3 separate regions of the Homo sapiens genome follow, and all the other regions are linked to region 2. The links come from fine-mapping of genetic effects on gene expression. A gene starts in region 2. Each other region holds a variant in brackets. All regions are shown on one strand. Distances are between the middles of the regions.

Evidence for each region. PIP is the estimated chance that this variant, and not a neighbour inherited with it, causes the effect. A credible set is the group of variants that fine-mapping cannot tell apart.
Region 1: its variant is the best candidate, but not a certain one, in a credible set for the expression of ERO1A in whole blood (INTERVAL, PIP 0.78).
Region 3: its variant is the best candidate, but not a certain one, in a credible set for the expression of ERO1A in fibroblasts (GTEx, PIP 0.50).

What each region holds. Positions count from the first base shown.
Region 1 is chr14:53,051,121-53,055,120 of GRCh38, reverse strand. DDHD1 (DDHD domain containing 1) reads left to right here. Exons shown (of 13, transcript NM_001160148.2): 11 at 492-683; 12 at 3,194-3,277. Among named protein-coding and RNA genes, the nearest start is that of DDHD1, 100 kb to the left of the region's middle. The variant C/T (reference allele first, on the strand shown) is at 2,398.
Region 2 is chr14:52,693,321-52,697,676 of GRCh38, reverse strand. ERO1A (endoplasmic reticulum oxidoreductase 1 alpha) reads left to right here and starts at 2,119. Exons shown (of 16, transcript NM_014584.3): 1 at 2,119-2,309. The coding sequence starts at 2,196. RefSeq lists a silencer at 1,648-2,187 and enhancers at 2,438-2,487, 2,093-2,594.
Region 3 is chr14:52,606,162-52,610,517 of GRCh38, reverse strand. All of the region lies in intron 3 of GPR137C (G protein-coupled receptor 137C), which reads right to left. Among named protein-coding and RNA genes, the nearest start is that of GPR137C, 56 kb to the right of the region's middle. The variant C/A (reference allele first, on the strand shown) is at 2,522.

The sequences.
Region 1 (4,000 bases), 360 kb before region 2:
AGTTGCCTTAATGTAAAATACCACAAGGTGGCACTATAAATAGGCTTTATCTCCTGGACTCATTGGCTGTTTTACTTTCTCATGTTAATACATTGTTTATTGATGGCTTTTTCTTACATGTCCATTTAAATTCAGTAGTAAGTATATCAATAGTAAATCTATACTCATGTCAATGGCATGGTTCTTTTATCAAAGACTTTAATCTTGCCAAATATTTTAATAAACCATGATCACTTGAATAAAATAGAATCTTTATTCCTTTGTTTATATATTCCTGTGTTATATTCCTAGAGCTTATACAACTCTCATTCTATTCACCATTTTTATTTAGAAACCTGCAATATAAATTATAATTTTCTTATGTTCCCACCCTGGAAAAACATGACTAGGGTTTGGTCCCTCTGCCAGTTGGCTATAATTATGGGTGGTGCTCTTTAGCTTAGAGTGTGGTGTGATTCAACAGAATGACTACCCTGCTTTGTGAAATACAGGGGCTGCTAGCATTGGAAAGGGACTTGGAGGAATGTTGTTCTCAAGATTTGGACGTTCATCTACAACACAGTCATCTGAAACATCAAAAGACTCAATGGAAGATGAGAAGAAGCCAGTTGCCTCACCTTCTGCTACCACCGTAGGGACACAGACCCTTCCACATAGCAGTTCTGGCTTCCTCGATTCTGCATGTTAGTTCATACATTATTTCCTTAAGTTGATACTGTATCTTTTTAAAACTTGGGGAGGGCAGGGAGGTATAAAATATTAATACTAGCTAGTCAACTCTAAGATCTAAAGTGTGCCTTAACTTTGAAAGAAAAAAATGCTTTCCTTCTGCTTATATTTTTAAGAATAATTTCCAGGAAAATGCAGTTTTACTTTCTGCATTGATGAATTAATAGAATATTAGTAATTAGGGCCTTGTGGCACAAGGTCTTAACCATCAAGCATAAAACAAATCTCTTTAGGGTAAGTACCCCCTGAAGTTTATAAAGTAGATTTTTACTAATGTGATCTTCTCAGTCTCAAAAATCGTGTAATTATTGCTTTAGATCTATGCTGTATCTGGTCTTGAGACTTTAAAAACTGCTATACCAAAGTCATCCTACTTCTATTCAAAGCTTAGAAATTTTATTGGATCTGCTGAATGGCTTCCAATTCTATCCCAGCTACCTAGTGTAAAGCAGATATTGAAAAAATGAGTAAATAAATGGATAGTTATGTTGGACTTAGCATTATATGGATCTTTAAGCTTTCTCCGGTGGACTTAGAAAGTTTGAAATGTTGAGTAGTTGTGAAACACGAATACACTTAGTATATATTTACTTCCAAGAGTCTGAACTTGAACATTATTTTTAGGTGTCTAGTAAAATAAAACTAAAACGTCAAGTCCTATTTTTTCATTGACACCTATAATGAAATATAAATTCTGAAACTAGCTACTCCTTTTCTGTAACTATAGCAGGGAGAAAACTTTTCTTTCTCTAGAAATTTTTAAACAGATTTTATTTGTTACTTAGAGTATTGTGTTCTTACTGTGTCTGCTACTCTAAATTGTAAAATGATGGCATTCATTGCCATCCATCCTTAGAAAGTTCAGGTGTGACACTCCTAGAGGCTGAATAATTCTTCCACAGTCAACTCCACTCCAGGATGAATTATTAATAGGGTTGAACATTCCTACTTGGGCCAACAGCATTTTTAATTTAATTATATCTGTGCCAGACTCTGGACACTGAAAATTTTATAATTGCAAGTCTGGAAAATTCTTTTTTAGACTTTGATATTTGCATTAAATATATTTTACCTTCTATAAGAGTTCTCATACTATTTCTGACTTGTTTCCTTTTCTACTTAATATCAAAAATGTGATTGTGAAAATACAAAATTCTGTCGTGACATGCAGATGTCAAGAAAACTCTAACTGCTGAAGAAAATTAATTTCAAAGAATTTTGTAAGGTAGCAGGTAAAAAGTCATGGTTCTCTGTAATGTCATTAATGTGCAACAGTAGTGCTAGTAAACATCAGAGTGAGGGAGGGAGCAAGAAGAGCAGGGTAGGGTTTAACCCCCTAGAAAAAGGGTAATGAAAACGTATGTATAGAATCTACAGGCTCTGAGGGAATAAAACTTTTTTAGGTTTTTTTTTTCTGTTTAACATAGTAATTTCAAAATAATAGAGAAACCCCCAGTTTTTTCTTCCAGAACAGCAGTTAGTAGAGGTGCATAGCTGTATTGCATCTTTTTATTTTGAGAGCTTAACAAAATACATACTATGTCATTCTTACACATAAATTCTTTGATAGTCCGAATGGTAAAATAGTCAACAAGACTCAATATGAGGTAATTATGAGTCTTACACATATTCACATATTACACATACTTATATATTATACATATTACA[C/T]ATATTCACCTCTAGATATAGATATAACTATTAAAATTGGACTATTATAATAAGATTCTGCCTTTTAAATCCTATTCCCAAGATTTGCTTTACTAATTATTTGGCTTGCTTCAATAATGTAATCTGTGTAATCGTCATAATTTCTCGTCGTTAAGTGCTGTCTTGGCTATATCGTGCAAATCATAAAACTTTTCTTCATTAAATCTTCTTTCTGAAATTTGGTCATTGTGATTAGGTGATTCTGGCTTCCCTCCTTTCTTCCTTCTACTTACATTAATTGCCTCAGTTCTTCTGGATAACCTTTATTCTGAAGCTACCGACTTTGATTCACTTGCTATTTGAGGGTAAAATGGGGCACAGGCTTAGAATTCATGATCTGTCTGTTTCTTTATGTGAAGAACTAGTGTTGTCAATTGAAACCTATTTTATTTTCATCCAGTTGAAGCATCTTACCTAGCTATTCTTCTTTTGAAAAGTCTAGACTTCTTTTCTAACATATAATGCAAAGATCTGTTTCTTTTAGCATTGTTTTGCATCTAGGTTAGGAACTAAATTAGCTATGAATTTGGGGACTATCTGGGTGTTAACAGATTATGAGATTATATTTCAAGTTAGTTATGCTTACATTTTCCATGAAAGAGCTCCTTACAAAAATTAAGATGTGTACTACTTTATGTATGCTAGATTTAGTCAGTTTATTTGGGAGTATTGTTCTAACTTTTGGCCACTACATCATTGAAGGCCATTTTTAATCATCAGCCAACCCTTTACAGCATCTTGTGTTTTTTTTTCACAGATTTCAGACTTCAAGAATCGTTCTTTAATCTCCCACAACTTCTTTTTCCGGAAAATGTAATGCAGAATAAAGATAATGCCCTCGGTATGGTATATGTCAGGAATAGCATTCAGAATACTATAAAAATGATCTACTTAGAGTTCTTCTGCTTATTGAAAAATTGGATCAGTTCTTCTATGAGATCCCAGCTTCAGTGTTACCATTACAGACTATTTTATGTGTATTTTCATCCCATATTTTCTAGTCTTAAATGGTAGTGGTTCTGAAACCTGAAAATTGACTAGCCACTTAATGTGCTAAAGTATATTTGTGTATACTTCTACAAAGAAGGAACCTGAAGAAAAGCATAAGGTCATTTTCTTCCTTCTTTATTGTCCTAAAGGCTCCAAAGAGGTTTGCTATTTCTTTTCATTTAATACATTTAGATATAAAAGGGTTTCTAATAGTACAAAGAATGTCATCATTCTTGGTTATTTCAGGTATCAGTAAATTTACCACTTAGGGTTGTAGGTATGTCATAGCTGATTGCTTTCAACACAGATATTTAATGTAGTTTAGGGGAGTACATTCACTTTTAAAAACAGTATTCTTGGATGTAAGAGATATTTTTAATCTCTTAATTTTCAGTATATTCTAAATGTATCACTATGGATTAACTTTAGCAGTTTAAAATTATTTTTATGACTAACTTCTGATTCTTTTTCCACAGCTTCTCTTTTAAAAAAAAAAATGCTGGATTTTGTCTTTGACAAAACACGTTACAGGGCTTTGTGGGATTTTTTTTCTTTTAATGTTTTAACCAAATCT
Region 2 (4,356 bases):
AAAAAAAAAAAGAAAAAGAAAAAAAAAAAAAAAAGCTTTCAGGTTAGGAGGGAGATTGTATTAATATGTACATGTGACATGTTGTAGATACTAGAATTAGAGCTTCTCAGGTCCATCAGGATCTCAGATGGGTTGTTGACTTTTACTACATGTCTACTTGGCAGTGATAGGCAGAGCTCTAGGGTTTGCAGTAAAATACATGAGTTTAAGTCATTTGAACTATTTCAACTTTTAATGTGCATGCAAGATGTCGGAAAGCTGCCAGTTTCACCTAGAAACTACCTTCTTAGGCTTGGTGAAGTGGCTCACACCTGTAATCCCAGCACTTTGGGAGGCAGAGGCAGGCAGATCACTTAAGGTCAGGAGTTCGAGACCAGCCTGGCCAACATGGTGAAACCACATGTCTACTAAAAATACAAAAGTTAGCTGGGTATGGTGGCGCAGGCCTGTAATCCCAGCTACTCGGGTAGCTGAGGCGTAAGAATCACTTAAACCCGGGAAGCGGAGGTTGCAGTGACCCGAGATTGCGCCACTGCACTCCAGCCTGGGTGAGGAAGTGAGAGTGTCTCAAAAAAAAGTCTTCTTAAAACAACAAACAAACAAACAAACAAAAAACAAAAAGTAAGGCCAGGTGCGGTGGCTCATGTCTGCAATTCTAGCACTTTGGGAGGCTGAGATGGGTGGGTCACCTGAGCTCAGAGCTAGAGACCAGCCTGGCCAACATGGCAAAACCCCTTCTCTACTGAAAATACAAAAATTAGCCGAGTGTGTGGTGGCTTACGCCTGTAATCCCAGCTACTGGGGAAGCTCAGGCAGGAGAATCTCTTGAACCTGGGAGGCAGAGATTGCAGTAAGCCAAGATGACGCCACTGCACTCCAGCCTGGGCGACAGAGCGAGACTCCGCCTCGAAAAAAAAAAAAAAAGTAATCCCAGCACTTTGGGAGGCTGAGGCGGGAGAATCGCTCTTGAGGAGTTTGAGACCAGCCTGGGCAACATGGTGAAACCTCGTTTCTACTAAAAATAAAATTAGCCAGGCGTGGTGGCGCACGCCTGTAGTTCATGCTACTCAGGAGGCTTAGGTGGGAGGATCGCTTGAGCCCAGGAGTTCGAGGTTGCAGTGAGCTGCGATCGCATCATTGCAGGCCAGCCTGGGTGACCCAGGGAGACCCTGTCTGGAAAAAAAAAAAGCGGATAGACTAGTCCCAACTCTGAATGTTAAAAGACCAGGACTGGGTATCAGAGGACCTCCAATCCTTGCTCACCTTACCTCACTTCTCTAGGCCTGTTTCTTCCTATGATATGAGCGGGTGGCTTCCACCCTCGCTGTCTAATACAGTGGGCACTAGCCAGCCACATTTGACTATGAAATGGGTCTAGTTCGCATCGAATACACACTGGATTTCAAAGACAAAAAAAGTCAAATATCTTATGAATAAATTTAATGTTGGTTATATTTTGAAATAATATTTTGCACATTCGGGGTTAAATAAAAATATTTTAAAAATAAAATGTACCTGTTATTTTTACTCTTTTGCTGTGGCTACTAAAAATATAAATGACATATGCTGCCCTGGTCTAGATGCTCTCTAATATCCCTTTCAGCTTTAAGACTCCGCCGGGAACACGGTGGACACGTAATTCGTACGATTTGATTGTCTCGCATTGAGATACGGAAGGATTGGCCGGGAGTGAGCGGGCTGGGGCTGGGCGGGGCGGCGCGGGGCGGGCACCCCCCGCCCCCCAACCCCGCAGGAAAACACAGGCCCCTCCGGCTTTCGCTCTCGCTCTGGGAACTGGAAGGACCCCCGACTCCCGCGCAGGGTCTGGGGTTGTGCGCGTCGGGTTGCGTCTCCAGGCCGGGGGCGTCAGGGAGCCGGGGGCGGGGACGGGCGCGGGCGCAGCGGACCGGGCGGGGCCGAGCCGGGAAGCTGGTCGGTGCGTCAGCCTCACGCGGCGGGAAGGAACCGGTCCGAGGCCCCGGGCTGCCGGCGCGGGCGCCGCGGCACGTCCACAGGCTGGGTCGCGAGGTGGCGATCGCTGAGAGGCAGGAGGGCCGAGGCGGGCCTGGGAGGCGGCCCGGAGGTGGGGCGCCGCTGGGGCCGGCCCGCACGGGCTTCATCTGAGGGCGCACGGCCCGCGACCGAGCGTGCGGACTGGCCTCCCAAGCGTGGGGCGACAAGCTGCCGGAGCTGCAATGGGCCGCGGCTGGGGATTCTTGTTTGGCCTCCTGGGCGCCGTGTGGCTGCTCAGCTCGGGCCACGGAGAGGAGCAGCCCCCGGAGACAGCGGCACAGAGGTGCTTCTGCCAGGTGAGCGATGTGCGCGTTGGTGCTGAGGGTCCCGGCGCCCTCCGCGGCGTGCACTGTCCCGCACGCCCTGGCGGGTGAGCGGCTGGGGGTGCGTCCTTGCATCTCTTCCCACCGGGAATGAGACTCCGGTGCTGCTGCCCGGTGGCCGGGACTGAGTCTGGCTTGGCGTGGACCGGGCCTCCACGGCAGCCTGGACGTCGCCGCGCCCTCCGGTGCCTCGGACCAGGAGAGGGGTTGGGTGCACGCGGTTGAGTGGGTTTATGCATCTTTGTTGGTCTTATCTGCCCGGGGAGAGTGTGCACAGTGTATAATGCCCTGCCAGTATTTGCTATTTTCACAGAACCTGGATCTTTCTCACTTCTCTCTTGACCAGGAACTTGTGTACCCAGTACCTGTGCTGCGTGCATTTCGCCAGCCTTTCTGGCTAAGACGTTTGTGGGCTGATCTCAGATTTCGATGTTAGGCGGAAGAATGGCTGCTTGCGGTTTTTCTGTGTGTAAGCCCAACTACCTGATGTCTTTGGGACTGCAGTTGCCCTCTGGTTTCTGGTCCTGTGTGCTCTTTTTCTCGAATGTAATGAGATTCTCTTATCGTGACACCCGTTAAGCTGGTACGAATTGGGAGGAAGGTCCTTATTCTTCAGTGCACAAGTTTAATTACAAGCGGATTATGATCATTTCCTTCTGTAAGAGATGTGGTTTCTTGAGCAAAAAATTGAGAGAAACTTACAGTTTTCCATTATCTTCAGTATCTAGTATTTCAATGTGATTACTCTTGTCAAAGCCACTTTTTGGTTGACTCTGTTGATAAAAATTACGTTTTATACAAAATTAAGGGTTAGGCATCCATGTTATTCCTAAGTGGATTTTGCTATTAATTTATTATCAGAAATACCATTTTATGTGTTTAGGGGCATGATACCATGTCAAAGGAAAGATGCATTTAAATATTATGAAAGGTTTCTCTTTCACTACTTTACATTCTTGGATTTTGTTGTTTTGCTGAGTGATTTGGGAGTTGAGGTGAGTGTTATCTAGGAAACTAAGGGAAGTTGAAAGAAAATTGCTACTTTACAACTGAGACATTGAAAAGTCCTTTACCTTCAATCATTACAAAGGACACACAATCAAGTACTTAAAAGGAAAAGGGTCATTTTTCTTCTGATTAGAAATATAACGCAACACCGAGATTAAACATTTAAAAAATAAGATAGAAATAAGTGACTTTAAAATAAAATATTCTTTACGGAAAGAAGATGTCCAATGTAACATTTTCAGCTACATTCTGGAGATTTGGATACTGGAATAAAAGTACATGTTGAACTCTTCAACTTTTACTTTTTTTTTCCTTAATAACCTTTTTGGAGTTCTGCTTAAAATAGAACTTTAAATTCTTTGCATTTATTTTCTTTTTCTTCTAACTAGTGATTAAACTTTTCCTCTTTCACAATACCCTCATATTCAAATACTTCCCTAACATAAAATTCTGTTAAACCCCTTTCTTTTTCTTTTAGAACGAGAGTGGCTATCTGTGTTTCTTTTCAGACTCAACCTTGAAAAATAGTAAATTGGGCTGGGTGTGGTGGCTCCAGCCTGTAATCCCAGCACTTTGGGAGGCTGAGGTGGGAGGATCTCTTGAGTCCAGGAGTTCAAGACCAGCACGGGCAACATAGTGAAACCCCCGTCTCTACAAAAAAAATTAAAAAAAGAAAAAAGCTGGGTGTGATGGTGTGCGCCTGTGGTCTCAGCTACTTGGGACACTGAGGTGGCAGGATGGAGTGAGCCCAGGAGTTCGAGACCAGCTTGGAGACCCGGTCTGTATTAGTCCGGGTTCTCTAGAGGGATAGAACCAATGGAATATATATATAAAGGGAGTTTATTAAGTATTAATTCACATGATCACAAGGTCCCGCAATAGGCTGTCTGCAGGCTGAGGAGCAAGGAGAGCCAGTCTGAGTTCCGAAACTGAAGAACTTGGAGTTTGGTATTTGAGGGCAGGAAGCATCCAGCATGGGAGAAAGATGTAGGCTGGAAGGCTAGGCCAGTCT
Region 3 (4,356 bases), 87 kb after region 2:
AGTAATAAATGGAATAATTATAACAAAATGCTGTAATAAAAGGTATGTGAATGTGGTCATCTCTCTCTCAATATATTTTATTGTACTGTACTCACCTATTTTCAGACTGAGGTTGACTGCAGTAACTGAAATCGTGGAAAGGAAACCGCAGATAAGGGGAGACTACCCTTGTCTTCACTTCACTAAAATATGCCAGGCATTATTTTAGAAAAGGACTGAAAAATGAATAACACAAATAAGAGAGCTCCTTTCCTGGTTTATACTTTAGCAGGGAGAAGCAGAAAATAACTAAGAAAATAAATGAATAAATAATTTTGGCTACTGATAAATGCTGTGAAGATAACAAAAGAGGGTGACAGATGTAGTAATCAGAATGGGGGATAGTCTTATTTGGGTAGTGAAGAAGAGCAACTTTGAAAAAGCGACTGAGGCCTGAATGCAAAGAAGCCATCACATAGGTACCTGTAGAAAATGCAATTTAGGCAGAGGGAACAATATATACAATACAAAGTCTATATGGCTGGAATAAACTTAGTGTATGTTTTGCGGTGAGAAGTTGGGGCACAAAAAGCCAATGTGGCTAGAAAAGGAAGAGGAGAGTGATAGTGGTAGGGGAATCACAAAAATAGTCAAAGGCCAGGTCTTACATGCCATTGAAGTCATACTGCCTTTGTCTCTTAAGCTCCACCTACTCCTGTGTAAATACCTGCTGGGAGGCACACCCATCTGGGCCACTGGGACAGTTTTCTGGACTTGGGTCCCTGGCCAGCATTCCCACCCAGCCCCGGTACCTTCCTTGTGTCTTCCCCAGATCCATCTGGGCCAGAAATTGGCATCAACTTCCGAGCCCTCACAAGACATGGAGCAAGCCTAGGCTTAGAGCGTCCTCCAGTGCTGAGACAACTGCAGTAGACACAGGCTCAGGAAACACAAGTCAGTCTGTTTAGAATCCCTGGAAGGCCCTCTGAAGAAGGCCAGGCATAAACAAAGCCAGACTGTGAAAACTAAAATAAAAATGTAACCCCTTGGTGTGTAGACACCGTCATACTTCCACAAGCATCAAGAACATTCAGAGAAATATGACCTCATCAAATGGATAAAATAAGGTGCCACTTACCCCAAAGTGATGGAGATGTGAGATCTCTCAAAGAATTTTAAATAGCTGTTTTAAGGAAGGTCAATGAACTTCAGGAAATCACAGAGACTCAAATGAGGAATATATCAAAGAAATTTAATATAGAGATTGAAATAATAAAAACAATCAAACAGAAACTCAGGAGCTGAAAATACACTGAATGAAATGAAAGATGTAATAGGGAGCAACAGCAGAATTGGTTAAACAGAACAATCAGTGAGCTTGAAAACAGACTAGCTGAAAATACACAGGGGAGAAAAAAGAAAAAAAAGAAATGAAGAAAGCTTATGAATCTGTGGGCCAACATAAAAAAGCAAATATTTGGGGTGTTGGAGTTAGGTAGGGAACTGAGAAAGACAGGGGTAGAAAGTTTATTTGAAGAAATAATAACAGAAAACTTCCCAAACCTGGAGAAAGATACAAATATCCAGGTACAGGAAAGTCAAAGGTCACCAATCAGAGTCAGTCCAAGTAAAGATACTCTAAGACATATAATCAAACTCCCAAAGGTGAAAGACAAAGAGAAGATCCTGAAAGCAGCAAGAGTAAAGATGCAAATAACATTTAGGAAAGATCCAATACACCTGGCAGCAGACTTCTCAGCAGAAACATTACGGGCCAGGAGTGAATGGGATGATATATTCAGAGTGCTGATGGAAAAAAAAAAAGCCTTCTAAGAATACTCTATCTAGCAAAGCTATTATTTAGAAGTGAAAGAGAGACTTTCACAAACAAAAACTGGGAATTTATCACCAGAGCTGTCCTACAATAAATGCTAAAGGGAATTTTTTTAAACCACAGGAAAAAGACTGTTAACATGATTGTTACACTAATATTATAATCATGATGCATAAACCACTTATATATTTACTAAGAAGACTAAAAGACAGAAGTATTAAAAATAATGACTACAATTTACCAAGAGACAGGCAATATAAAAATGCAAATTGTGCCATCAAACGTTCAAAATGTGGGGAAGAGAATGGAGCTAATGTGTACAGTGTTCTTTGTTTTCTCTTCTTTTTGTGATCAAAGTTGTTATCAATCTTAAGTAACTTGTTGTTAACTACAGAATATTTTTTGTAAGCCTCATGGTAACCACAAAGCAAAAATCTATAACAGATACACTAAAAATAAAAAGCAATAGATTAAAACATACTGCCAGAGAAATCACTTAACCACAAAAGAAGACAGTAAAAAAGGAAGAAAGGAAGAGAGGAGTTAGAAAAGAAGCAAAAATGGCAGTAAATCCTGACATATCAATAGTAACATTTAGTGTAAATGGATTAAACTGTCTAATTAAAAGATACAGAGTGGCAAAATGGATTAAAAAACATGATCTAACTATATGTTGCCTACAGGAAAATCACTTCACCTGTAAAGACA[C/A]AATACACTGAAAGTGAGGGGATGGAAAAAGATATTCCATGCAAATGGAAACCAAAAAGGAGTAGGAAGAGCTATATTCATATCAGATAAAATAGACCTTGTCTTTTTCTTTTTTTTTTTTTGAGACAGAGTCTCGCTCTGCTGCCCAGGCTGGAGTGCAGTGGTGTGATCTCAGCTCACTGCAACCTCCACCTCCTGTGCTCAAGCGATTCTTGTGCCTCAGCCTCCCAAGCAGCTGGGATTACAGGCATGCGCCACCATGCCCAGCTAATTTTTGTATTTTTACTAGAGACGGGGTTTTGCCATGTTGGCCAGGCTGGTCTTGAACTCCTGAGCCAAGCCATCTGCCCACCTTGGCTTCCTAAAGTGCTGGGATTACAGGCATGAACCACTGCACTTGGCCAGATAAAATAGACTTTAAGTCAAAAATTGTAAAAAGACACAAACGTCATTATACAAAGGTGTCAGTCAACTGAGCAAGAAGACATGACAACAATAAATATATATACATCCAACACCAAGAACACCCAAATATATGAAGCAAATATTAATATTAGCAAAGCTAAAGGGAGAGATAAACTGCAATACAGTAGCAGTAGGGGACTTCAACACCTCACTTTTAGCAACGGACAGATCATCCAGGTGGAAAATCAACAAAGAAACATTGGAGATAAATTATACTCTAAGCCAACTAGCCCTAACAGACATCCATAAAACATTTCATCCAACTGCTGCAGAATGCACATTTTTCTCATCAGTACCTAAAACATTCTCCAGAATAGACCACATGTTAGGCCAGAAAACAAGTCTCAACAAATTAATTAAACAAAGTCAAATCATATCAATATCTTTTCTGGCTGCAACAGAGCAAGACTAGAAATCAGTAACAGGAGGAACTTCTGAAACTGTAAAAATACATGGAAATTAAATAACATGTTCCTGAACGATCAATGGCTCAACGAATAAGTTAAGGAAATTAAAAAATTTCTTGAGAAAAACAAAAATGGAAACACAACATACCAGAAACTATAGGATACAGCAAATGCAGCAGCAAGAGGGAAGTTTATAGAAGTAAATGCCTCCATCAAAAAAATAGAAAGACAAATAAACAATCTAATAATGTATCTCAAGGAAACAGAAAAGCAAGAGCAAGCCAAAGCCAAAATTAGTAGAAGGAAAGAAATAATGAAGATTAAAGCAGAAATAAATGAAATTGAGACTTAAAAAAATACAAAAGAGGAACAAAACAAAAAGTTTGTTTTTTGAAAAAATAAATCAACAAACTTAGCTAGACTAACAAAAAGAGAAGACTCAAATAATTAAAACTAAGGATGAAAAGAGAAACATTAGCAGCCTGGACAACATAGATTCTGTCTACAAAAAATTTAAAAAATTGGCTGGGTGTGGTGGCACATGCCTGTAGTCCCAGCCCTGGGAGTCTGAGGTGGGAGGATCACTTGAGCCTGGGAGGTCCAGGCTGTAGTGAGCTGAGATCACACCATTGCCCACTCCAGCCTGGGTGACACAGCAAGACACTGTCTCAAAGTAAATAAACAAATTTAATTAATAAATAAAAGCACTATTCATGTAAAATAAAAAAGAAAAAGAAAAGGAAACATTATAACAGATACCACAGAAATACAAGAAATCATTAGAGACTATTACGAACTACATGCCAACAAATTAGAAAACCTGGAAGAAATGGATAAGTTCCTGAACACATATAACCTACCATGACTGAATAACGAAGAAAACCTGAATACATCAATAATGAGTAACAGTATTAAAACAGTAATAAAGTCCCCCAACAAAGAAAAAGCACAGGACCTTATGGC